4 linked regions of the Homo sapiens genome follow. The protein of the gene in region 4 interacts with the protein of the main gene of each other region in a biochemical or structural test. Each region holds a gene or a part of one and is shown on either strand. Other genes may lie near its edges. The genes, in order: LOXL1, ELN, LPA and FBLN5.

Evidence for each region.
Region 1: the proteins of FBLN5 (region 4) and LOXL1 form a complex in vitro, tested with the Homo sapiens proteins (2 studies listed by BioGRID and IntAct).
Region 2: the proteins of FBLN5 (region 4) and ELN form a complex in vitro, tested with the Homo sapiens proteins (one study listed by IntAct).
Region 3: the proteins of FBLN5 (region 4) and LPA form a complex in vitro, tested with the Homo sapiens proteins (one study listed by BioGRID).

The regions. Positions count from the first base shown.
Region 1 is NC_000015.10:73,943,428-73,950,494, reverse strand, and holds part of LOXL1 (lysyl oxidase homolog 1 preproprotein), read right to left. Parts: intron 4,079-7,067; coding exon 3,941-4,078; intron 3,429-3,940; coding exon 3,272-3,428; intron 2,689-3,271; coding exon 2,593-2,688; intron 1,037-2,592; coding exon 921-1,036; intron 1-920. UniProt on the Homo sapiens protein: Catalyzes the oxidative deamination of lysine and hydroxylysine residues in collagen and elastin, resulting in the formation of covalent cross-linkages, and the stabilization of collagen and elastin fibers.
Region 2 is NC_000007.14:74,066,173-74,070,407, reverse strand, and holds the end of ELN (elastin isoform a precursor), read right to left. Parts: intron 3,677-4,235; coding exon 3,632-3,676; intron 1,752-3,631; coding exon 1,708-1,751; 3' UTR 501-1,707; downstream 1-500. UniProt on the Homo sapiens protein: Major structural protein of tissues such as aorta and nuchal ligament, which must expand rapidly and recover completely.
Region 3 is NC_000006.12:160,661,241-160,668,393, forward strand, and holds the start of LPA (apolipoprotein(a) precursor), read right to left. Parts: upstream 3,036-7,153; 5' UTR 2,975-3,035; coding exon 2,926-2,974; intron 1-2,925. UniProt on the Homo sapiens protein: Apo(a) is the main constituent of lipoprotein(a) (Lp(a)). It has serine proteinase activity and is able of autoproteolysis. Inhibits tissue-type plasminogen activator 1. Lp(a) may be a ligand for megalin/Gp 330.
Region 4 is NC_000014.9:91,937,695-91,944,694, forward strand, and holds part of FBLN5 (fibulin-5 isoform 1 precursor), read right to left. Parts: intron 5,268-7,000; coding exon 5,213-5,267; intron 2,923-5,212; coding exon 2,871-2,922; intron 2,257-2,870; exon of another isoform or gene 2,156-2,256; intron 759-2,155; coding exon of another isoform or gene 636-758; intron 1-635. UniProt on the Homo sapiens protein: Essential for elastic fiber formation, is involved in the assembly of continuous elastin (ELN) polymer and promotes the interaction of microfibrils and ELN. Stabilizes and organizes elastic fibers in the skin, lung and vasculature.

The sequences.
Region 1 (7,067 bases), on a different chromosome or scaffold from region 4:
TGTCACAGACTGAATCCTGACCCTGGCCATACACCACACCCTGACCATAGTCATAGGCTTAATCTCTCATACCTGCCATCCATTAATAAGTACACACTTTTAGGGAAAGATACCTCTCTGGGCCTTAAGATCTCTACCACCTTTCTCCCAGTTGATGAACTAAAGCTGAAAGCTCTAGGACTAATTTTTTTTTTTTTTTTTAATGGAAAAGGGTTGCTTCGATCTGGAGTGTGGTGGGGTTTCCTTGTGAGCTTGTAAGCAAGGGGTCCCTCTGCAAACTACTTCACATGGGGAATCAGGAGAAAGACTGAGGACCCTACCCAGCAGCATGTGCCAAAATCCCAAGCCCAGATTTTAGGCACTTCTTCTACAATGGGGGCCTAGGGACTGAAGATGGCTCCTTTGAACCAGAATCACTTCTAATCTGTGACTGTTTAATCCAGTCCACTTGAAAAGGACACTAATGATCACAGCTGCTGTTCACTGTGTGCCACTGTGAACATGCAGACATCAGGCCTGTAGATCCTCATTGCCAGCCTATGTGGAAATACCTATTTTATAGTTGAGGAAAGTAGCTCAGGGAAGTAACCCAATGTCACATAGCGAGGAAGCTGTGGAACTGGGACTGCAGAGCTCATGGCCTTGCATCAAATGACTCTGCCTTCTGCTGGTTTTCACTTGGGACATCTCAGGGAGCCACAGGATGCAGCCCCAGATCAACACCCTACGGCCTGAGCCCCACCGTAAACACTCAGCTTGGGGTTGGCACGGACAAGGCTCTTTTTGATGGGCCCTGCTGCAGCTGCGTTCGGCCATCAAGGTGACCTAAAGTGCAGGTATCTTAGGTATCTCAGGTGGCCTTGCCTGCTCCCCAGGCAGGAAAGGGACGGAGCCAGGAAGGGTGGTGGGCAAACTCTTACTGGACAATTTTGCAGTTTGTTGCAGAAACGTAGCGACCTGTGTAGTGAATGTTGCATCTCACCACGTTGTTGGTGAAGTCAGACTCCAAAACAATATACTTTGGGTTCACGTGCACCTGAGGAAGAAGAGAAACAGGGAGAAAGGGAGTCTAGTCAGGGGGGCTGCACCTCAACTGCTCACCAGAGAAGGTGGTAAAGAGGCAGACAGACAGACAGAGAGGTGACAGAGAGAGGGAGAACAGAGACACACTGCTAGAGAGACACAGAGGGGAAAGAAGAGGCAGCTGGTAATCCAAGAAAACATCATCTAATCCCCCTTATCAGAAGATTGGATGTTTCCCTAGAGCTAGAGCCTATGCCAGGTGGGCCCCGCATGGGGCATTTGGGGTCAGAGAGGTTGGATCCTGCCCGAGGGAATGCAGTAATGAGGAGCTGAGCCAGGATTCAACACCTGGTCTCCCCAAATCCAAGGCTCAAAGTCATTCCCTATGCATCCCTGTCTAGGTGACTGATCGAGGGCCTGTCTGATCCCCTGCTCTGGAGCCCCACGTGCCCAACATTCACTGAGATGATGGCCCAAGTATGATCTGTGCTTTTTGTCTGAAAAGGAGCTGTTGGGATACAACACTTTTAAATGTTGGATTAACTAGGGTAGGGCCAGCTTTATTTGCAGAACATCTAAGAACAGATGCAGGGATGCAACTTTCAAATCCTGGTACACTCCCAAAGGGCAGGGACTGTGAACTGCATTGCTTATGTGGTTTGTGTGTCTAGTGCCTAGAACTCAGAGGGGACTTCCTACATGTTGATTGAGTGGATGAATGAGGAAAAGAAAAAATATACTGGACAACCCCAGGCCCTGGAGGAGCAAGCTTGGAGCCTGCTGAAGAGCACTCAGGAGGGAACTGCAGAGAACCGCTGCCGGATGCATCTCTCCACCTGCTGACTTTCTGCAGGGAAGGCCTCCGCCTGCAAACCTGGCTTCACTGCTCTGCCTTTACTGAGCTGCTTTTCTGCTTCTGAGTGGGTCCAGATGAACTGGTGGAATGATCCCTACTCATTTTATACCTGTGTGGAGGAGGCTGAGACATGGCTTCCCCAGGTGGGCCCATGACAACCTGGCCTACACGGATGTACCAAGTCTGGATGTGTGTTGTTAATATGCTTTTCTACTTTTCCCTCAACCAAGGGAAGAGGTGATGGAGTGAGTGTCCATTAGAGCAGGAGGGGTTCAGGCTAAAAGGGTCTTAGTCACAGGAGCCCTTGGCTTTGCAGGGGTCCCTATAAGGAGCTGAGGGCCTCTCATCTGTCTCCCAAATGATACAAAGTCTGCCCTGTCCGAAGACAGGAAGATAGACCACATGGCTCTCCAAGTCTTTCTTGCTCTCCCTGGTCCTCTGTCACTTAGGGAGACAGTATCACCACTGCCTCTGGCATTACCACAGCTGGGGCAAAGGTTCCCTGGGTTCTTTATGGAAAGAGAGGCTATGTCAGCCTGAGACCTAAATCTTCGGCTGGGAAGCCTAAACCTCAAGTGATGCCTCAGATGCTGCCTCTGCTCGGCAGCTGGGGAGAAGGGAACAGGCCCAGAGGCTGAAGCTTCTTTCAGGAACGGGGGGACATTGGACATGAACATCAGGTTGGAGGGAAAGCCCCAGACCCAGAGGCCCACCTTGAGGATGTAGTTCCCAGGCTGCACGTCGGTTATGTCGATCCACTGGCAGTCGATGTCCGCATTGTAGGTGTCATAGCAGCCTGGGCTCAGGCCCTGGGAAAGGGACAAGAGGAGCGGCTGTGATGCTGCTTGTTTCCCAGAGCCACCCCACGCCCACCTTCAGGAGTTTCTGGCCCACCTTCCCCTGGGTTTCTCCCCTGACCCTGGCCCAGGGCAACTGCTCAGGGTGGGTCCACACCTTCCTAAAGCCACTGGCTAGATGGACCAGAGGAAAGACAGATATCTAATAGCCAGGTGGGAGGGACGAGATGGATGGCAGAATGGATAAAAAGAGACAGGACAGATGGACAGTTTGTGGATATTTAGGGTGGCTGATGGAAAGAGGGATATGGGTGGGTGAACAGGCCAATAGGACGTGTTGCTCTCCAGACTGTTGCGATGTTTCCTTCTCTCCACGAGCAGATCACCTGGAATAACATGGGAAAGGGGCTGGGGCAGGGAGGGAACAGTCCCTGCAGGGCAGTGTGGCAGCCTGAGGACTGGTGAGAAGACCTTCACTGTGAGCAGAGCTGAGTGGCCAGAAGCCTTGGCACTTGCCGGGCCTCAGCGGGCCTCGCTCTTTGCCTCCCCAACTCCTTATCCTCCCATGCCCCAAACCCCATCTCTCCAGCCCAACCTGGGTATGAGAGGTGCATGCATAGCGCTTGAGGTTGCCGAAGTCACAGGTGCTGTCCTCCAGGCAGAAACTGGCCTTGTGGCCCTCGGCCACCTTCTTGCCTGTGGCTGCATCCAGTAGGTCGTAGTGGCTGAACTCGTCCATGCTGTGGTAATGCCTAGGGGCAGAGGAGAGAAGGAGAAAGAAGAGGGCCTAGTCTTCCCTGGGCCTCTCATCCTGTCCCCATCCTGAGATGGGCTCAGGTGACCCTGCTGTGGCACAGCCTCCTGGCTGGTCTAGGTTCTCCTGTCTCCTGAGTACTGCGGGGTGGCCCCTCTGTGCTCCCCACCTAGCTGGGTCACTCCAGGACAGCACATGCTCTAGACCCCTCACTTCCTTTTTGGGCTCCCACCTGTAATGGCCTCACTGGGCAATGCCCTGTATTCTAGACATTTCCATCCCTGATTGAGACCAATCCTTCTATATCCATCTTCCAGCCTAGCTTTGGCTAAGGCTTCTCTGAGAAACACTTGCCCCAGTGAAAAGAGTTGGCAGGTAACACCTCCCCGGGCCCTCTAATCCAGTATCTGTGTCTCCCAGAGTGCTCATGGTGGGAGGGGAGCTCAGGCACCAAGGTCCCTGGCCCAGAGGAGAAGTGGAAGAGGACGGGCCCAGCCCCTCCCCACTCACTGGTGGCAGCTGTGCCACTCCCAGGTGTGCCGTGGCCGGTTGGGGAGGAAGTCTGCTGTGCCCTGGTTCTTCACGCGCTGGGGGAAGCGCAGTAGCACCCGCACATCGTAGTCGGTGGCCTCAGGGGCATAGGCTGTGCTGCAGGGACGGCGGGGGAGATGAGGGGGGGTTGGGGCACAGTGACACCAGAACCCAGCATGGGCCCCCTCAGCCCCACCCCCAGCCCTTGGCCACTGGTTCTGCAGCCCCACTCCTTGTCCCTGAAGATCTTCTCCTCTGTCTCCTCGAACTGTGGCGGAGGCTCAGGCCTCTTCCTCTGTCTTCTGACCCCGTGAAATCCTGGCTGTCCCCTCCTTTCTGGCCTCCACCATGTGGCCGCCAGCTGCCAACAGCATCTTTCTAAAGCGGTACCAAGCATGGCAGTGTCCCTGATACCTGCAGGTGACTCAGCTGGGGTCAGCCCCTAGGTGCAGGAGCACATAGCAATCTCTGAAGGGCCACTGAAAAACAGCCCTATTGCGGGGGCCAGGCACTTTGGCTCATGCCTGTAATTACAGAGCTTTTTGGAGGTCGAGGCAGGAGGATCACTTGAGGCCCATAGTTTGAGACCAGCCTGGGCAACATAGTGAGAAATTAAAATTTAAAAAATTAATTTAATTAAAGAAATTTTTAAAAAATTAAAAAATTAGCCAGGTAAGGTGGCTTATGCCTGTAGTCCCAGCTACTTGGAGACTGATCCCTTGAGCCCAGGAATTTGAGGCTGCAATGAGCTATAATTGTGCTGCTGCACTCCAGTCTGGGCAACAGAGTGAGACCCCCTTTCTAAAAAAAAGAAAAAAAAAAGTCCTATCCAGGAGATTCTGATAAGTCTCTGACAACAAGACAGAGCCCTAATTGTTGACCAAAGTATGCCATGTCTTGGGTGTGGGCCTGAAAAACAGACGTGAAGTCCTCTGGTCAAAGCCTCTTCACTTTTCTAGTCCCATCTGCCCTTCCACTCCCCCACACACCCTGGGTTCCTGCTTCAAAGCCTATTTTCCAAACAGGCTGAACTTTTTCCCTGACCCATACTTTTGCCCATGCTGTTTGCTTGACCCAGAATTCCAAAACTCACCCAGTATCCTAGGGTCAACTCAAAAGTCCCCTCCTCCAGGAAGTCTGCCCTGATTGCTCTACATAGAGGATCCGGATTGCCTGTGAGCTCTAACAGCACTGACTGCAGCACAGCCCGATACCATCTACATCTTGCACTGGGTCCAGACCACCTCTCCCTGATTGCATGGCTTCAGGCTGGCAACCTGCCCTTTTCCATTCAGGGAACATGGGTCTGGTATGAATTGCCTGCTCGCAAGTCACCTGCTGACTCCAGATTTCCAACTGAGGTAGGCCTTGTGACAAAAGGAAAAGGGTGGAAAGAGGAACGAGGGGCTGCAGTGAGGGGAGACACACACACATGCACACATACACACACATGCACACACATGTGTGGTAGGAACAGGAAGGGGTGGCTGAAGGCCCCTCCCCTCTTTAGCTGACGGCTGACAGCTAACTCTGTTGGCCTCAGGGGCTCTTCCCTGGCACTCATTAAGGTCCGATCCTAAGGCCAGAGGGGAGCGGTGGCCAGTCGTAGGGATTAGCGCTCTCTTTGAGAGAATGTCTGGACAACAGGCGGCTCAGACTGTCTGCCAGGATGAAAGGCCCTCAGCCTTGTCTGGGGGAGGCTTGGAATCTGTCTATGTCTGGGTTGAAACAAAACATCCTCCTTCCCTCTGTTCAGTTAAATCCTGCCCTTCTGTTCGGCTCAGCACACCGTGGGAAACCATAAGGGTCTAGGTTCTAGGCCCAGCTTGGCCACAAACTGGTGGTGAGACTTGGAATTGGTCCCTTTTCTTCTCTGGGTTCTGCCTGCAGCATGTGAACTGGCACCAGCCTGCGGCCCATACTTGAAATGATCTCAGAGGGCCCTCCTGCCCCAGGGCTCCAGTTTTGCAGGATTCTCCAGGTCTGAACTCCCACGCCCACCTCCTCTGAGGCCTCAGCCCTTGCTGATCCCTCCCTCCTCTGACCTCCAGCAGCCCTGGCCTGTGAACCAGTCCTTCTGGCTCTTTTCCCACTCGTGTCTTGGTTCTGTCACTGGGGTACAGGTGAGGGCTGTTCTCTCCAGCTGTACCAGGAGACCCTCCAGGACAGAGGACAGGCTGCCTCCTCTCCCCAGCTGGGAGCGCAGGTCCGGGCACTCAGGATCCTTCATGAAGAGGCAGTGATGTTAATAGTTTGACTTTGACTAATTCTCTTAAGACTGGAAGGGCTGTCATGGAGGCTGTAAGTTCCTCATTGCTGGAGGAATTCCAGCAGGACCATTATGCTCTCTTCCCCAAGACAACTGAAACAAGACAAGAACTGCCCAGACAGGCTGGCTGAGTGGTACTCAGCCTGCGGTCCCTGGACCAGGGGCAGTTCCCACACTGATGCCAGTCTGGGATGGGATTGGGAACTTGCACCAGAATGTACATCGACAACATTCCTAATCACTCTGCTTAGTTCAGCGGATACTTTTTCTTTTTTTAAAGCAAGACTTTCTCAATGAAGGAGTGAGTTGAGTTACATTCTAGTTCAAGCTCTTTATCTTGTTACAGACAGATAAGGGTTTATGATCAGCTACTTAGAGTGGCAGTGAACTAGAAGTTCTAGAAATGAGAAAATGTTGAGATTCTAAAGAGTTTCCTAGATAGTAAAAAGTCAAACTAAACAGAGAGTTCAAATGTCCAAAAAGCAGGTAATTAAGAAAAATAGGTGCTTTCAACATAAAGGGATATTAACAAAAGAAGCAGATAACATAATCTTAACTAATTATTTTGGCCCAGGGAGGTATCCGCAAAGCACCTATGTTCCAGCAGAATATGAACTGCTTATAAATTAGAAGCAAACACTGCGAGAGGCAGGATCACCCATGAATAATGGCGAGCCAGCTGTGCTCACCTTCTAGGTTCATGGAAACTGGTCTCCTTCCCCTCTTTCCAGTGCAACATATAACTGAAACTTCTTTGTCCCCCGGGCTCACTGCCCCTGCTGTGACTAGGCAGAGGCAGCCTGGACCAGCCAAAGCCACAACTGTCCTCTGTGGACA
Region 2 (4,235 bases), on a different chromosome or scaffold from region 4:
GACTGTCTTCTGCATTTTCTTAGGTCAGCCATCTTTCCTCTCTGTCTCTTTCTGTTTCTCTCTCTCTCTCTCTCGAGACAGGATCTTGCTGTCTCACCCAGGCTGGAGTGCAGTGGCGCAATCATAGCTCACTGCAGCCTCGAAATCCTGGGCTCAAGCGATCCTCCCACCTCAGCCTCCTGAGTAGCTGGGACCACAGGCATGCACCACCACCAATCTTGGGTAATTTTTTTTTTTTTTGTAGCTATATGGTACAAAGTGATTCTCCACTGGACAGCTATGTTGTCCAGGTGGGTCTCAAACTCCTGGCCTCATTGTTAAAGTACAAGCCAAACTTGGAGAAAGATCGATGCCCCAGAAGCCAGCAGCAGGGGCTTTTGGTTGGGCAACCTCTCAAATACACTGTGGGTGGTGGAGGTTCCCTGAAGCAGAGCCCTTATCCCCATCCAGGCCAGCGAGTTGAAGGCAGATTAAATCATACGAAGGAAGCTAAGACACAGTTTCCTTTAAAGGTTTTTCATTTATTAGTCATTTCTGAAGCAGTTAATTCTCTTTTCTTATTAAAAAAAAAGGTGTGTTTCATCCAGAGTTATATTAGAGTGATTAAAATGTTTTTTCTACTGGGGATACAGCTCCCCGGATCAGAAAAAAAAATTATCTTTTTTTTTCAATGAACCACAACAATAAAACCAAAAGAGAATATCAACAATCAAAAATAATCCCCAAATATCCAGGACAAAAAATAAAATATTTATTGATCTATCACAGCGAGACACAAAAAGATGGGCGGGGCAGGAATGGGAACTGCTCTGAAGTTCAGTGGACCGAGGGAGGGATGGGGGGTATACAGTACTGCATGTGGGGACACCCCGGGTGGGGAGGAGATGCCTGGCACCCCAGTCTGCACAGCCCCGCACGCCCTGGGGGAGTGTAGGATGGGGGTGGAGGCAGGGCACAGGCGGCCATGACAGGTCAACCAGGTTGATGGTGGGTGCACCCAGCCAGCTAGTGGTGCCGGGCGGTCAACTGGGGACATGGATGGACGGACCGATGGATGAATGGACGGATGGGCGGATGGATTCTACAAGGGCAAGGTGGCTATTCCCAGTGTGGGGTGGTTTTCCAACCCAAAAGCGCCCCAGATGTGGGGAACAGCGATCGGTGGGGAGGAGACGGCCAAGTGGACCCAGGAGAGGAGGGATGCTAGAGCGAATCCAGCTTTGAGGCTTCAGGTGCTTGGGTACCAACTGGATGGCAGCCAACGGTGGGTCCTGGTGGGCAGGGGGAGCTGGGACTGCCCAGGAAGTGTCTGCACCATCTTTAGAGGAGCCCCAGGTAGGGGGTTCCCCGAGGGGCCACCCTTCCCTCCTCCCTCCCCCCAGGAAGATAAGAGCACCAGCGTGTAGCACCAAGTTCCCCTGGAGATGGAGGCTGTGTGGAGGGGGAGCTCCTAGGTGGGAAGGGATGGGGTGGGGGGCCAGGACCACATGGCCCTTGCCTCTGAAGTAGGGGGCCTCCTGGTCGGGGCACTTGGCCGCTCCCCTCTTGTTTCCTTGCCCTGTGGATCTGCAAGGCCGCCCGGCCTGCCCGTTCCCTCCTGGGGTGGGGAGTCGGAGGGGCATGGGATGGGGTTACAAAGGGTTTACATTCTCCACCAAGCAGTAGCACCAACGTTGATGAGGTCGTGAGTCAGGGGTCCTAGGAAGCTCATTTTCTCTTCCGGCCACAAGCTTTCCCCAGGCAGGCCCCACCTGGACGGGAGGAGGTGCACATCACTGTGAGTCCGGCCCCTCTCAGTTTCGGCTCTAATCCCCGCCTGCTCTGACCCACTCGAATGGAGGCTCCAAGAAGCCAAGAGAAGCCAAGTCATGGCCCCAGGCCAAACTCAGACCTGATCCATGCCATCAACTTCCACTGGACAGATGGGGCGGGAGAAGCCCCCAAGATATTACTTGGATGAAACCAACGCTCGCAGAAAAGGGGGCAGGTCATGGGGCCTGGCTGGGGAAGGACGGGGCCTGGCACTGGCTCCTGGCTCCACTGCTCCAAGAAGCCTTTCGGGGAAAGGCTAAGAGCAGCTCCATCAAGGAACATGGGATGAAGGGAGAGTCAGTGTCTGCAGGAGACGGCCCTCTCAGGGAGTGGGGTGGACCCATACATCTGAGAGGGCATCAGATAAGTAAATCAAGGCCCAGTAGAGGGAGAGAGGGTCTTATCCACATAGTGTCTGAGCTGGGACTCAAACCCAGGATTCCTACCCCCTCCTGGGAATAGTCTGATGGGTGAACCCTGTTTCAAGGCATCAGTCTGTATTAGGTAAGGCACCATTGTCTAGTAGCGCGGCCCGGAGCAGTTCCTAACCCTGCTTGAGCCAGATATGGCTCCTTACCGCCACCTGGTGGCAGTGAGCAGAGAGTGGGGCAGGAACAGACATCTGCCTCTGAAGGTTTTTTTTTTTTTTTTTTTTTTTTTTTGAGACGCAATCGTCTTGCCCTGTCATCACCCAGGCTAGAGGGCAGTGGTGTAGTCTCAGCTCACTGCAACCTCCGCCTCCTGGGTTCAAGCAATTCTCCTGTCTCAGCCTCCAGAGTAGCTGGGATTACAGGCGTGCACCACCACACCTGGCTAATTTTTTTTTTTTTTTTGAGACGGAGTCTTGCTGTGCCGCCCAGGCTGGAGTGCAGTGGCGCAATCTCGGCTCACTGCAAGCTCCGCCTCCCGGGTTCACACCATGCTCCGCCTCCCGGGTTCACACCATTCTCCTGCGTGAGCCTCCCGAGTAGCTGAGACTACAGGTGCCCGCCACCATGCCCGGCTAATTTTTTGTATTTTTAGTAGAGACGGCCGGACGTGGTGGCTCACTCCTGTAATCCCAGCACTTTGGGAGGCCGAGGCGGGCGGATCACGAGGTCAGGAGTTCGAGACCAGCCTGGCCAATATGGTGAAACCCCGTCTCTACTAAAAATACAAAAATTAGCTGGGCGTAGTGGTGTATGCCTGTAGTCCCAGCTACTTGGGAGGCTGAGGCAGAAGAATCGCTTGAACCTAGGAGGCAGAGGTTGCAGTGAGCCAAGATCGTGCCACTGCACTCCAGCCTGGGCAACAGAGCAAGACTCCATCTCAAAAAAAAAAAGAAGACTATAGTATTTTTAGTAGAGACGGGGTTTCACCGTTTCAGCCAGGATGGTTTCCATCTCCTGACCTCGTGATCCACCTGCCTTGGCCTCCCAAAGGGCTGGGATTACAGGCGTGAGCCACCACACCCGGCTAATTTTAGTATTTTTAATAGAGACAGGGTTTCGCCATGTTGGCCAGGCTGGTCTTGAACTCCTGACCTCAGGTGATCTGCCCTCCTCAGCCTCCCAAAGTGCTGGGATTACAGGTGTGAGCCATCACACCTGGCCATGAACTGTGTTTTTAAAAAGCAAATGTTCCCTGTGTTTATAAGAGGTCAGCAAGAAGGAGGGGAGGCTCTACATTCAGCTCGGGGTCCAGCCTCGTGTGACCTGAGGCTGTGGGGTCCACCCCTGGGTGCTGGCTCAGCCCTTCTGAGCAGGAGATGGCACAGGAGAGGAGGGAGGAGGTGGCTGCAGCTCCAGGGCAGGGCCCAGGGGCAGGGAGCCTGGCATACCTGGGAAAATGGGAGACAATCCGAAGCCAGGTCTTGCTGCCACTCCTGCAGGAGAGATTTCAGGTTGGTGGGTTGGTAGGGGTGGAAACTGACTCCAGCCTCATCACTTTCTGCCTGCACTGGCTCACCCAAGACCTCTGTCTGGGATCACCTCCTCTCCATCCCCCCCACTATATAATTTTTTATATTTTATTTTATTATTATTTTTTTGAGATGGGGTCTTGCTCTGTCACCCAGGCTGGAGTGCAGTGGTGCGATCTTGGCTCACTGCAACCTCCGCTTCCCAGGCTCCAGTGATTCTCCCGCCTCAGCCTCCCGAGTAGCTGGGATTACAGGCGTCCACCACGTTTGGCTAATTTTTGCATTTTTTTTAGTAGAGACAGGGTTTCACCATGTTGACCAGACTGGTCTCGAACTCCTGACCTCAAGTGATCCACCCACCTAGGCCTCCCAAAGTGCTGGGATTACAGGCGTGAGCCACCACGCCCAGCCAATCCCCCTCACTACAGCCAGAGTGGCTTTCTCAACACAACATGCCGCCACCTAGCAACCAGGTGTGGCACCTCATGGCCTCAACCCTGAGCTCAGCCTGGCACTGTCCCCA
Region 3 (7,153 bases), on a different chromosome or scaffold from region 4:
CAACCTTGACCACTTTGAGGGGTGTGGTGGGGGCCACATGCAGATGGAGTGGGTTAAAGAGTGACTAGAAGAGCAGTGGGGGTGGCAGCAGGAGAGAAGCCTGGCTCTGAAAGCAGCGAGACTTCTAGGGAATACAGGGTCAGGGGAGGTTCTGAAAGATGACACACTGCAGAGAACATGTGTTTGTATGCCGATGACAAGTATCCAGTAGAAAGGCAGATGAACAGATTCTCATTCTCAGAAAGGCCTGTCCTGACCTCCTGAGAGTACACAGACCATGAGGGCAGGGCAAGGAGGAGGATGCACGCTCACTGTTTCATGCAAAGTCCTTGGCCACAGTCCACCTGCTCCCCACCTCTGTGACTTTGTCCTTCCTCAATTTAATATGCTCTATGCTGGAAAACTGGATTATTGAACAGGCATTGGCTGATGCATTCTGAACCTAATCCACTAAAAAGCACTTGATAGATATATCAAAATATCATTGAGAAATAGATATTTTAGGCCCATATCCATGTCTTCACCCCGCACTGTTTCTCATTTGAACTCTCTTTTCCAGGAAGAGTTGTGCTTGGGTAAATTCTATAGCTCACAGTGTGACTTCAAAACACACAATAAATTAATAAGGTGCTTCCTACAGTGAGTTCAGTTAAACATTTTGAAGAGTGTTTTTGAAATGTAGCAGAGCAGGCTACAATTGATATTCAAAAAGAGGAAACTTCCATTTATTTCCCCCTTTAACTAAGTTACCTGTAACTGTGTCATTTTATTATGCTTCATAGAGCATCACTGCTGAGATCCCCTCCCCAGCTCATGTTGCTAGGAAATATCCCAAAACAGAATCAATTTTTCTTTTTTTAACCTGATGATTTTTCCACAATCCTTTTGTTTCTCTGATTCACCTCCAGGGCTCATATGGCAATGGGGATTTAATAGGGTTTATTTGTTGGTGAAGAAACATTAAACAAATCTTTTAATAGGAAAAATACTTTTATATTATAGGCAAAATGTAGATGTATATTGCTACTGAAGTAAATGTATTTTATTAATGGTGTGAGAATTTCTTCCTCACTGTGGTGTGTGAATGTGTATGCATATTTGCATGTGTAAAAGACTTAGCAATTTGTGAATAGAAGATGTTTCTCCGCTTCTCACTGAGCATGGCTGTAAAAGAAACTTTTTCCTCTCCCCGGGCATTCCAGCACACATTGGAAAGATAACACGTCCACAGAAAGCCTGGCTTTCCAAAAGAGCTTATCAGAGAATGTGCCCCCCAGGTCGATTAAAACATATGTTAATCCTGTGGCAGAGAAGTTTGTTCTAGCCTTTGGGTGTAGCCTGCTGAATAAGTTCACAGTGATCTACATCCTAGTTTCCATGGGCTGAAATAGAATATTCATATCCCCTGCACTCCCTACACACACAGACATAGACACCAATTTCCCCAAAAAACTCTTTGCTTAATCTTCTCCTGCTCTGTATTTTCTTTGATATTTTCTTGAATGGCTTCCACTAAATTCAAATGTGTTTGACTTTAAAGTCAACTTGTAAAATTTTATCTGGTAATTTATAGATTAAATTGCAAGCATCTACCTCCCTTTCATCAGACTCTCCCTGCAGGGCAAGTTCATCTAACTATGTATGTGCTTCAAGATGGAACTCCTGAGTTCACAGGTGATTTATAAACCAAAGCATGCCCACTACAAAACTCTCACCCTCCAGAGATTTGCCTCAAGGGACAACACCCTGCTCACAAAGGCACCAGCAGGCAACTGCTCAACTACCTGGTGGATAAGGTGCCCAAGCTAGCATGGACCCCTGAATCCTTGCTCGCCTCCTCTGTTGCCTTTTAAAAGTGCCACTTTCTGCTCCTAAAGTGAAGTAGTACGGCAGGACTGCTGCATTTCTTCCCCTAAGCTAGCTTTGGAAGCAAATCACTTTCTTTATACCAGACTTCTCTCTTCTTAATTGGATTCTGCAAGTGGCAAACAATTAACCTGCTCTTCAGTTACATTGGAATGTGTTTAGATTTATTTTTTCAAATGTTGGAACAAAGATGAAAAAGTGAGAAGAGCCCTAGATTTTTTCTTGGAAATCTGGCTTAAATCCAGGTTTCTTTATTTCCTTGATTTGGGAATTTGGTCACGAGACAAATAACATGATTTTCCTAAGTCTAGATTTCTTTGTTTATAAAATGGGGATGACTATGCTACCCTACCTATACCATGAGCTAAATAAGCTAGTATTTGTAAAGGACACACACTTACATTCACAATCACACACGGTGTGTATGTGTGTATGTATGTATAAAAATGTGGGGACCTAACCCACTCAACAAATACCCTGAGTATTTGTTGAATCATTATATGCGTATATCATCTGGCAAATGGATGTGTATAATTTCTCCAGGGATAAGAAGCAAATGTATACCGATGGAAAGCCTTACTCAGGCCATAACAAAGAGAGAAATGCTGAGTCCCACTCCATGAACAGGTCAAGGAACCAAACATATTCAAAGAGTTATTTCATTGTTTCAACTTGCTAGTGAGGGGAGCATGGCACCTGAACAGAGATGATATAAATTAATGAAACTGAGAACCAAGCGAAGAGCTTAGCCATCCTTTGCATAGTTAGCTACAATGGCTATTTATTTTTCAGCCAGACTGGCCATCATGTAGGCACACTCTTTTAGATTAGAAAAATCAACCATTATTTTTTCTGCCCATTCATTCCAGCACCGTGACAGTCTTCACGGGGAAATTAAACTTATTTTTTTAAGAATTTTTCAATCATATACAAGATTTTGAACTGGGAATTTCATGAATCAAAAATTAAATGAATTGCACATAAAGCCATGGCATATGTATTTTTACTACATTGTGGGAGAAAAAATAATTCTTATAATTTAAAAAAACTATGTCTTACCTGATTTCAGAAATAAAAGAAGTAGAAGAACCACTTCCTTATGTTCCATTTTGGGACTGGCCAGCAGTGCCCAGAAAGTGTGTCCCAATCCCAGGACATTGTTGACTTACATGAGAGTAAACGCACCCACAAACCAGATAGTCAAATTAAGTTAATGATTCTCTCAGAGACCCATGCCACTGGCTCAGCAGGGTTCAAACATTACCTTGAATATAGAGTCTTATAAAATATTTGAGAGTGCAATGTCAATAGATGCTGGGAAGTGGTGAAAGCCATTTCCCCCCTCAGCTGCTCCACATTGCCTTTATGTCTCCTTACTCCTTCCCTCACCCCTAGACCTTCATCTTTCCTGATTAGTCTTGTTTCCTCCCCTCTTCTTTCATTCTCTTTCTTTTGGATAAAATAAAATCATAAAAGTAGCTCATATTTGCTGGTAACTTCCATGACCAGACCCTCTGCCAAGTGCTGCACATCCATAGCCTCCCTCAAGCTTTCCAACAGGCAGTGCTGTACGAGGAGGGGGCTGAGGCCTTCCCGAGGTTGTGTCGCTACCCAGGGGTGCAGCTGATAGACACAACCCTTTCAGGTCTTAGTTTACGAGCAAGCTAGGTATAAATGTTAACATCTCCACATCCTATACCAAACTGTGCCGAAATGACAACATAAGTGAAAATCTTTTATTATCTTCAAAATTTATTTATTCCTAGTGAACTCACATGTTTTCTGTAATTATAAATTATGTTATAAGATATCAATCCTTCCAGGAGGGGGTGGTGGCTCATGCCTATAATCCCAGCATTTTGGGAGGCCACGGCAGATGGATCACCTGAGGCCAGGAGTTTGAGACAAGCCTGGGCAACATGCCAAAACCCTGTCTCTACAAAAAATACAAAAATTAGCTGGGTGTGGAGGCACATGCCAGTCATCCCAGCTACTAAGTAGGCTGAGGCACTAGAATTGCTTGAACACAGGAGATGGAGGTTGCAGTGAGCCAAGAATGTGCCACTGCACTCCAGCCTGGGTGACAGAGCAAGAATGTCTCAGGAAAGAAAAAAAAATAATAAATACCAAATAAAATTAATAAAATATCAATCCTTCCTATTCTAGTAGTTGTGGCTTAAATAAATAAATAAATATTTTTAAAAATAAAACATAGGGTCGAGTGCGGTGGCTCAACTCTGTAATCCCAGCACTTTGGGAGGCCAAGACAGGTGGATCACAAGGTCAGGAGTTTGAGACCAGCCAGGCCAATGTGGTGAAACCCCATCTCTACTAAAAATACAAAAATTAGCCAGGCGTGGTGGTGGGCACCTGTAATCCCAGCTACTAGGGAGGCTGGAGTATTCACTTGAACCCAGGAGGTGGAAGTTGCAGTGAGCCAAAATCACGTCAGTGCACTTCAACCGGGGTGAGAGTCTCAATAAAATAAAATAAAATAAAATAAAATAAAATAAAATAAAATAAAAGCATAGTATCAATCTTTCCGCAAATGAATTCATGGTGCAATCTTACATTTTCGTTCTCATGAAGTAAAGCAAGAGTGGTAGAATTAAGTGGAAAGAGTCTATCTCTAGTGTAGTCACGTCAGTGGTTGTGTCAAGATGGTTAGGAGGCTCCTCCCGTTTAAAACAGTATCCAAGCCCCAGTTGTAAATCAATTGGGGAGACACGCCAACTCTGATCATCAGCAATATCTGAGCTCCAGTCTCAGATATTGTGTGCAGTTAGTCTCTGTCCTGTACCCTCTACCTCCTTCCCTACCAGAAAAATCACCACTTTAGTCCCTGGCCACCGGGACACCCCAGGAGGGTGAGTGGTCTGAGGTAGTTATGGCACTTATGGCTCCCTTGCTGCTGATCTGGAACTCAAGCCCCAAGAAGTCCCCTTGGATGATCTGAATATACATTTGGGACAGATCTAGGGAGTTTCTGAGCAACACTTAGACTGGGGTCTTCCATTGATTAAATCCTACTTGAATTCGCTACTTTGGGACTCAAGTCTAAGGGACTGAGACTGAGACAGGAGAGCACAAGACTAACTTTGGTCTCTTGATCTTTTCTTACCTTGCAACTGTCAATGCCTCCAGCCAAATGCCCAGCACAGAGCTCAGTGGATTTGACTCTTCCATTCAGAAACTCATAGCGATTGCACACTTCATTCTCAATCACAGGGAGCTGGGCTTCCTTGAGAAAGCCAGCCCCAAAGGTACCTGTGTTTAAAAAGATGAAAGAAATGGTAACTACGTCCACAACATGTTCACAAGGAAACTCCAGAAGAACAGAGCAGTGGTGATGGACCTCCTGTCTGTCCGTGAGGCTGTAGAACACAAGGCAGCTCCCAATGCTGCCAGACTCTCTGAACCCTGGAGAGTGTAAACGTCATATAAGAGTCTATGTTCCAAAAACCTGGATTTAACAATCTGAGCTTTGTCATGGTGCTTTGCGGTTGGTTGTTGTTTCTTTACCTTTTTCTTTGCTTTTAAAACCATAAAGAATAATGTTTAAATGTAGAGTCTGAGAAATGCAATTGCTATTGTTTTTATATTTTCAGACTTTTTGTATGCTTCTTTCACTAATTACATCATATCACAAAATTTCACACCCTGATTTTTTCACTCAACATTACATAATGAGTTTTGTATAGTGCTATGATCTTCATAACTAATATTTTAAAGGAGAGCTACTGATTAATGAGCATGAGGTTTCCTTTGGGGATGAGGAAAATATTCTGGAAATATGATGATGGTTGCACACCACTGTGAATGTACTAAATGCCACTTGGTGGTACCCTGCAAAAATGGTTAAAATAGTAACTCTTACGCTGTGTACATTTTATTGCAATAAAAAAGAATAGTCATCATTTACTAAGCATTATCCTTTCCAGGCACAAGCTTATAATGTGGTGTATCTCACTTCATCCTCACAACAGTCCTATGAAACAGGCAGTTCCATCACTCCTGCTCTACAGTTAAGGAAACTGAGGTGTAAGGAGGTTGTCTAGTTCAACCTGAGCCTGGGTCTGCGGAGTCACTGCCCAAATGCTTCCTCCCCGTGCGCGTTGGCCCCCCTCTTGCTTCCAACCCTCCACATCTTTGTTCATAAAGTTCATTCTTATTCCTTAATATTTTCTGAGCCTAAGTTCCCATAAATTATATAGACATATTTCTGTCTCCCAATAACACTGCCAATTTATTTTCTAGAAGGTTATGACAGTGTAAAATGTCACTAGAAAACAATCACTTCACCACACTTGTATGAGTGTTCAATTTTTAAATATTAGCTAATCTAACAGGTTGAAATTGTCCTGATTCATTTTCTAATTTATACTTCTTTGACAATTTGGGAGAGTGAAGATTCTCCTGGTTGTGTTTATTCTTTTGTGAAAAACTGCTTTATTTTCTTTGCCAAATTCAAATAGAACGGTTGCAAAATTGCCAGAGGAAATGCTGTTTTTCCAGATGGACACACCCAGGGATGTTTCAGTGTTCTCACAAATAATCCAGTTTTCTAATTTTGCAAGCCCAGCTTTCATTAGAATTTTGCAAAAATCCTTGCTTTGCGAGCATGGCACAGGCAAGAGATGAGGCACTCTCTCTTTCTTCCCCCAGAGCCTTTGACTGCACTTAGATCATTGACTTTGGTTCAGAAACCTGACTGCATCTGGAGTTGACATGAGCAGCATGGAAGATGTTTGTCCCAGCACCTCACTCCAGAGGCCAGCTCAGCTCAATCTGGGCAGAGCTGCATGATGGAAGTTTCTGACTACCAAGCATCGGGCAGAGGGTGCATCACCTGGACTACATAGTTGTGTGAGGGAGCACCGTTCTCTAGAATCTGCTATTTGAGCAAGGCAAACATCCTGATAATGGTGAAAACCTACCGCAAGTTGCCAGGAAAGTTGATGTGGTCTGCGAGTAGGTGCTGCCATCCAGTGGCCGACATAGAGATGTCATCTCTGAGGGCAGGTAGGCCACAGGTGACAAGAGGATTGAAGCCCTCCCTGATGGGGCCTTGGGGAGAGGGCAGCAGGGTAAGTCCAGCGGCAGGATCAGTCCATTGATTGTGGATGACGACTGACCTGGAAAATCCCCTTGGCCTCAACACCTCCAAACTCTGCATTTGATCCAAGTCAGGGAACACCTGGAAACATGAAGGGGAGAGCAGGAAAACTTTGACCTCCCTCTCAGAGGCTGAGAACGCCAATTGACCTGATGTCATTATTGACATGTA
Region 4 (7,000 bases):
CTCTGCAGAGAGCCCCCACCAGCAAGAAGGCCCTCACCAGATGGAGATCCTCAACCTTGGACTTCTCAGCTTCCACAATTGTAAGAAATAAATTCCTCTTCTTTATAAATTACCCAGTTTTAGGTATTTAGGTATAAGCAACAGAGAACGGACTAAAACAAACCTGTACTATCATTTGCACATACTCTTTCTTTAAGTAAGCCCATATTTGAAGCCCAAATAAATGTATATTTAAAGTCTTACATGACTACAGCAAGTGAAAACTAGCATAAGTAGAAGGTAACAGTAAAAATAAATATACACTATTAAAATAAAGAGTGTTTATCTGCAGATGTACCATCTAATACATCAAGGATCCTCGTGTGCACATACTATACTCTGAAAATACTGGGATGGGCCTAACAATTGTCTCCACTTCTACTTCAAGTAACAGTGGTCAGGGGAGAAAGAGTCTCTTGCATCAGGAAAAGACAAGGCTTAGGCTGGGCACAGTGGCTCATGCCTGTAATCCCAGCACTTTGGGAGGCCGAGGCAGGTGGATCACCTGAGGTCAGGAGTTCAAGACCAGCCTCCCAACATGGGGAAATCCCATCTCTACTAAATACCAAAAATTAGATGGGTGTGGTGGCACATGCCTGTAATTCCAGCTACTTGGGAGGCTGAGGCAGAAGAATCGCTTGAACCCGGGAGGCAGAGGTTGCAGTGAGCTGAGATTGCGCCATTGCACTCCAGCCTAGGCGACGAGAGGGAAACTCCATCTCAAAACAAAAACAAAAACAAAAAAAAGAAAAAAGAAAAAAAAGAAAAGGCTTGACTGACAGCTAGTTGCTTGTTAAGAAAGCAGAGCTTTGCTTTCAAGTCAGCTCTGTGCCAGCCAACAATTTCTAGCCAGGCTGGGCTCTGCTTGTTATGTCTGGAAGGGGAGAGGTGGACTCTCTAGAAAATCAGCCTTGCTAGGGTACAGACAGGGGAGGCCTGAACTGTGGCTCCAGCGAGCAGTAGACATGATCCCGTATACCGAGCCATGTCAGCAGCCTTGGAGTCTGCTCTGTGCGGGGCTAGAGACTGGAGACCACATGCCTGCACCCGACAACTCACCCCCAGCATCTCATCTGAGAAACTCACACCCAATCCTACCAGAGGTAAAAGCAATGGCAAGGTGCAGAATGCAACAGCCTGTTCTCCAGCTTGAAGCCTGAAGCCATCGCTGAAATGGGGGGCCAGAAAAGAAGGCCACTGCTCTACTCTTGATTCCTCATCAAATCTTCAAATCAAAACACCTTATTTTAAAATCAAAACGTAAGCCCAGATTTCCCAGGACAGGGTTTTATTCCTCACTGTTCATCGATTTTTCAAACCATCTATCTCCCCTCTGGAGCATGGTGACGTTAGCTCAGAGAAGACAAATGATTTTGCTTAAATTAAATATAATTTAAAAGCTAAATACTTCCCCTAAGATGGGGGCAAGTAGGGCTGTCTTCTTCCGTTCATATGCCCTATGCTCTGTCAACAACAAACTATTCCATGCTCTGAGTGTCCTTTCCACACCTGGTCCTTGTTAATGCTGTTCCTTCTACCTGGAATGGCATTTCTTAGGATCCTATTCATCTTTCAATACCCAATTCAAATGTGACCTCCATTAATTTTTTTTTTTTTTTTTTTTGAGACAGAGTCTCTCTCTGTTGCCCAGGCTGGAGTACAGTGGTGCGATCTCAGCTCATTGCAACCTCTGCCTCCCAGGTTCAAACCATTCTCCTGCCTCAGCTTCCTGAGTAGCTGGGGCTACAAGCACATGCCACTACTCCTGGCTAATTTTTTTGTATTTTTAGTAGAGACAGGGTTTCACCATGTTGGCCAGGCTGGTCTCGCACTCCTGCCCTCAGGTGATGCACTCGCCTCGGCCTCCCAAAGTGCTGGGATTACAGGCGTGAGCCACCGCACCCGGCCCCATCGATGCTTTATTGACCCTGGACATAAGGTATTACTTTCTCCTCTTCTTTTGCAGAGTCCATTGCAAAAGATGGCATGCTAAGAGAATGACCCCCACAAACACTCCAAAATCTCTTCCTAGTCCTCAGAACCTGTGAATAGGTTGGGTTACACGGCAAAGGGGAATTAAGGTAGCAGCTGGAATTAAGCTTACTAAGCAGCTGACCTTGAGATGGGGAGGTTATCCTGGATTTTCTGGGTGGGCCCGATATATTCACAGGAGTTCTTAAAAGTAGAAGAAGAAGAGGCTGATTGGTCAGAGAGATGCTACAACAGAAAAAGAAGAGATTCAAAGTGAGAAACGCTTGACTCGCTGTGTTGGCTTTGAGGATGGAGGGAGGAGCCACCAGCCAAGGAAAGCAGGAGGCTTCTAAAAGGTAGGAATTGCCCTCCACTGACAGTCAGCAAGGAAACAGAACCTCAGTCCTACAACCACAAGAAACTCAATTCTGCCAACAACCAGAAGGGAATAAAAGTCTCCCTTAGAGCCTCCAGAAGAGCACACAGCCCTACTGACACCTTAATTCTATTCTGGTGGAGACTCAAGTCAAACTTCTGACCTACTGAACTGTAAAATCATACACTGGTGTTGTTTAAGCCACTAAGTTGGTGGTAATTTGTTACGGCAGCCCTAGGAAACACCAATCCAATAGAAACCTTCAAGAGAACAGAGATCAATTCTTTCACCCCTCTCAGTGCTTAGCTCAAGGCCAGGCACAAAGAAGGTGATCAATAAAAGGGCACCACTGACTTCAGTCATTCCATGTCACTGTATTCTCCCATGGGCATGGCTAATCATTGAACAACAGAGAAAGAAATAAATAGCACTGCAACTGGGCTGAATGCCTCCACCCCAATGAAGGATCCACAGTGGCTCATACCTAAACACTGTCCTGACTGGCGATCCAGGTCAAAGCCATTCGTGCACTGTGCCTGCAGGGAAGGAGAGAGGAGAAACAGGCAAGGTCATTTCACACCATAAAAGTCTTATTGCTGCAACACAGAAAGTTGGGGAAATGGAGCAAAAAAGAAAGGCCTCCAAAATACCAATACCTGTATTATAACCCCTATTTGTTCTTCTAAAATTTTTCCTTGTAATTATTTTATACTTAGAACTACTTTCTAAACTCCCCACACCAGGCCAGGCGCAGTGGCTCATGCATGTAATCCCAGCACTTTGGGAGGCTGAGGAGGAAGGATTTCTTGAGCCCAGGATTTTGAGACCGCCCTCAAGACCCCATCTCTGTGTTTTTAGAAAAACTTTATTTAAAAAAAAACTCCCTGTACCATTGCTTCATAGCTCCCATTTTTAGCAGACAGGTTTCAGGGTTTTTAATGCTGTAGTTGTGAAGAGCAAGAGGAATCATATCTGCTGAGCCTAATGTGGCATGCTCCCTGTTCATCCCCTTTCTGGGAATGAATAAGACTGCTTTTAAGGGCAATGACTCTTTCTTTAGGTGCTACCTCGCCTTCAGAGTGTCGAATATGAGTTATTTGCCCCCATGAAATCCTCTACCTGATTTTGATGTCTGTACATAAATAAAAGCTACACAGAGATGTGGTCAGTTTTCTAAGAAAAGTTGAATTGAGTAAATTTCTCCATTTCAACCTCAGCAAGATGACGACATAAAGATGCTTCCAGAAAGAGATAGATCTCAACAATTCCAGAGGGTTGTAGCTTTTACATACAACTTGAGCTACAAATGTATGTACTTAAAAAAAAAATGTGTTGGGTGGACTCTTCAGGAAGACCCCAGGGCCTGACATTTTCTAGGAGCTCCCATCCCTGGCCTTTTCTACAGCTTCGGAGGTTGGGCTTCGCTGAGCTGTTGGTTGATTTGCAGAGATGATGTATATGGCCTGCACTCCCGGGAGAGGGTTCAGGGGTCCCAGGGAGTTGGGGCAAAGGAAGTGGAACAGACGAGCCAGGAAGCTGTGCCGGGAAGCTGGGAGGCCAGGAGATCCAGGTTCCAGCCCTGGTTGTCAAGGACTGGCATAGGTTCAAGACTGCTGGACCAGGGCATGGCTTCAAATTCTCACTCTAGCCCCTACTCTCTGCGTAACTTTTCTATGCCTCAGTTTCCCCATCTGTAAAATGGGGGGGTATGTACGTAGTTCAAAATGGTGGTAAGGACGATGTATGTTAATCTATATAACGTGCCTAAAGTGCAGTAAACACGACCCTGAACCTCTGCCCTTGGGGCCTACCTGTCTTCATGTGTACACCATGAGGCTGCCTTAGAAAACCGCAAGGTCTAAAATTCTTTGTTACTCCTCCCAAAATCCTTCCCATTGCCAGTGGCCTGAATATGCTTCAAAATTCTTAATATGAAGAGAGAAAATGCTCCCCTACCTGCCTGCAGCCCTCAGCCTGCTCAGAGATAGGGCTTCTCTCACTTCTTTCCTGAGCCAGAGACACAGAGAGGCCACTCGGAGTTTTCAGGAGGGATCTGCCCACATTTCAGGGCTGACACACAGGGGTCCATCTCTCCTGTTGCTTAAAATAAAGTCCAGGATGCTGCAAGCTTCTTCCAGAACCCCTAAGGCCCTGAGCCTGGCCTCACCCACCCCCTTCTTACTCCTCTGAGGGGTTTCAGCCCAGGGATGGGCCCTCCTAGGTTTGGAGCTGAATTATGCAACACTACATGCTGGGATGTTTGGGTAACACCCACTTCCTCTCCCACCTCCTCCAGGAGGGGTGTGTCTGTGGCAACACATGCAGACCCGTGGGGGTCCTCAGGTGCCATTGCCCAGAAACACTACAGCATATTTTACTTTTCAACACTGAAGGTAGGTTGAGGCCTGCTGTGAGGGGCACAAATGAGGCCATGTGATCTGATTAAAAATGGATGCTGGGCTTAATACCTAGTGATGAATTGATAGGTGCAGCAAACCACCATGGCCCACATTTACCTATGTAACAAACCTGCACATCCTGCACATGTACCCTAGAACTTATAATAAAATAGAAAAGAGTCTTGGACTGGGAGTCAGGAAACTGAGTACCAGCCCCAGCCTTGTCACTTACAAGTCATGTCACCTGGGCCAAGTCTCACTTTCTCTGAGCTTCCACTGTTAACCTCTGAGAATGAAGAGCTCAGATGAGGTCAACTGTAAAGCCACTCCCACCCCCACAAACCTAGGGTTCCGTAGCGCAAGGCTGGACTCCCTCACCCCGGATTTTAATACGCTTGTAGATATTTTTTAAAAATAAAAATCTTACCTGTGCATTCCCAGGGCTTGGAAGACAGAGAGCCAGAATGGTAACAGTGAGTATCCTGTGGAGGTGAAAAGTCAAATATAAATGCCCAAGACAGATTCAGGTCTAGGGGAGTGTGGGTCGCATGCGGCCCGTGACGTGTAACGGTGATATCACCTTGGGCTTGTATGGGGTGGGGTGTGCTCCAGGGAGGTCATGGTGGTTCCAGACACCGCGACCACCCAAGCAGAACCACACCTCTTCTACTTGCCTCCTGCATTGGGATCATGTGTTAGATCACACTTTTTAATAAAGGGTTTGGCTGCTTCAAAAAAAAAAGCTAAGGTCAGGTGCGGTGGCTTACGCTTGTAATCCCAGCACTTTGAGAGGCTGAGGCAAGAGGATTGCTTGAACCCAGGAGTTTGAGACAAGCCTGGGCAACATGGTGAAACCCCATTTCTACAAAATTAAAAAAAAAATTAACTGGGCATGATAGCACGCGCCTAAAGTCCCAGCTACTCAGGAGGCTGAGGTGGGATCACCTGAGCCCAGGGGGTTTGAGGCTGCAGTGAGCTGAGATCATACCACTGCACTCCAGCCTGGGTGACAGAGCGAGACCTTGTCCTCCCCCCACCCCCCAAAAAAGCTAAAACCTCCCACTATGGTATTAACCAGTTCCTTGGTCTTTATTCTTTATGCGAGATGTGCTTGACTTTTGAACATCTTTATGCTGACATGATTACAGAGTGAATAAGCCATCATCATGCCCTCAAACAGTGAAAGGAAAAGAAAGTGAGAATGTGAGGCACTTTGAGTGGCACCAAAGAAAGGTGTCACAGGAAGTCACTGAACCAGAGCATTGAGTCCACATGTGTGAAAATCCCCCATCAGTGGATGGGTTGGGGTGGCCCTGTCCCCTGAAGAGTGTGGCCTGCGGGAACTGCTGCCAGCAGGTCCTGATGGAGGAAAGGACTCGGGGAACCTGCACAGCCCAGGGAAAATGAAACCCGCGGGAAAACAGGAGGAGGAGTCACGCACCCTGGGCTCAGTTCTGCCATGCACAAGACAGTGATGCTCTGGGAGTCTGCAACTCTGCCCTTCGCCACGCACAGGCTTTAATCCAGTAAGATTGTGGCCAGCAAGATTGCTTTAAAAATACAAAAGCAGCCGGGTGTGGTGGCTCATGCCTGTAATCCCAGCACTTTGGGAGGCCGAGGCAGGAAGGTCACCTGAGGTCAGGAGTTCGAGACCAGCCTGGCCAACATGGTGAAACCTTGTCTCTCTACTAAAAATACAAAAATTTGCCAGGCATGGTGGTACACGCTCTGAGACAAAGCGAGACTCTGTCTCAAAAAATAAAAACAAAATAAAAATACAAAATCTCTACTACTTCACACTCATGAGGCTATTAAAAAATGGAAAAGAGCAAGCGTTAGGGAGGATGTGGAGAAAGTGAAACTCCTGTGCACTGTTGGTGTAAATATGGTGCAGTCTCTATGGAAAACAGTATGATGACTCCCAAAACACTAAACATAGAATTTCCATGTGATCCAGCCATTCTACTTCTAGGTATATACCCTCAAAAAATTAAAAGCAAGGACTTGAAACAGGTATTTGTAAACCTGTGTTCATAGCAGCATTATTCACAATAGCCTAAAGGTGGACGCAGTCCTTCGATGGATACATGGATAAACAAAATGCAGTCTGTACACACAAGGGAATAGTATTCAGTCTTAAAAAGGAAGGAAATTCTGACACATGCTACAATATGAATGAACCCTGACTGTATTATGTTAAGTGAAAAAAGCCACT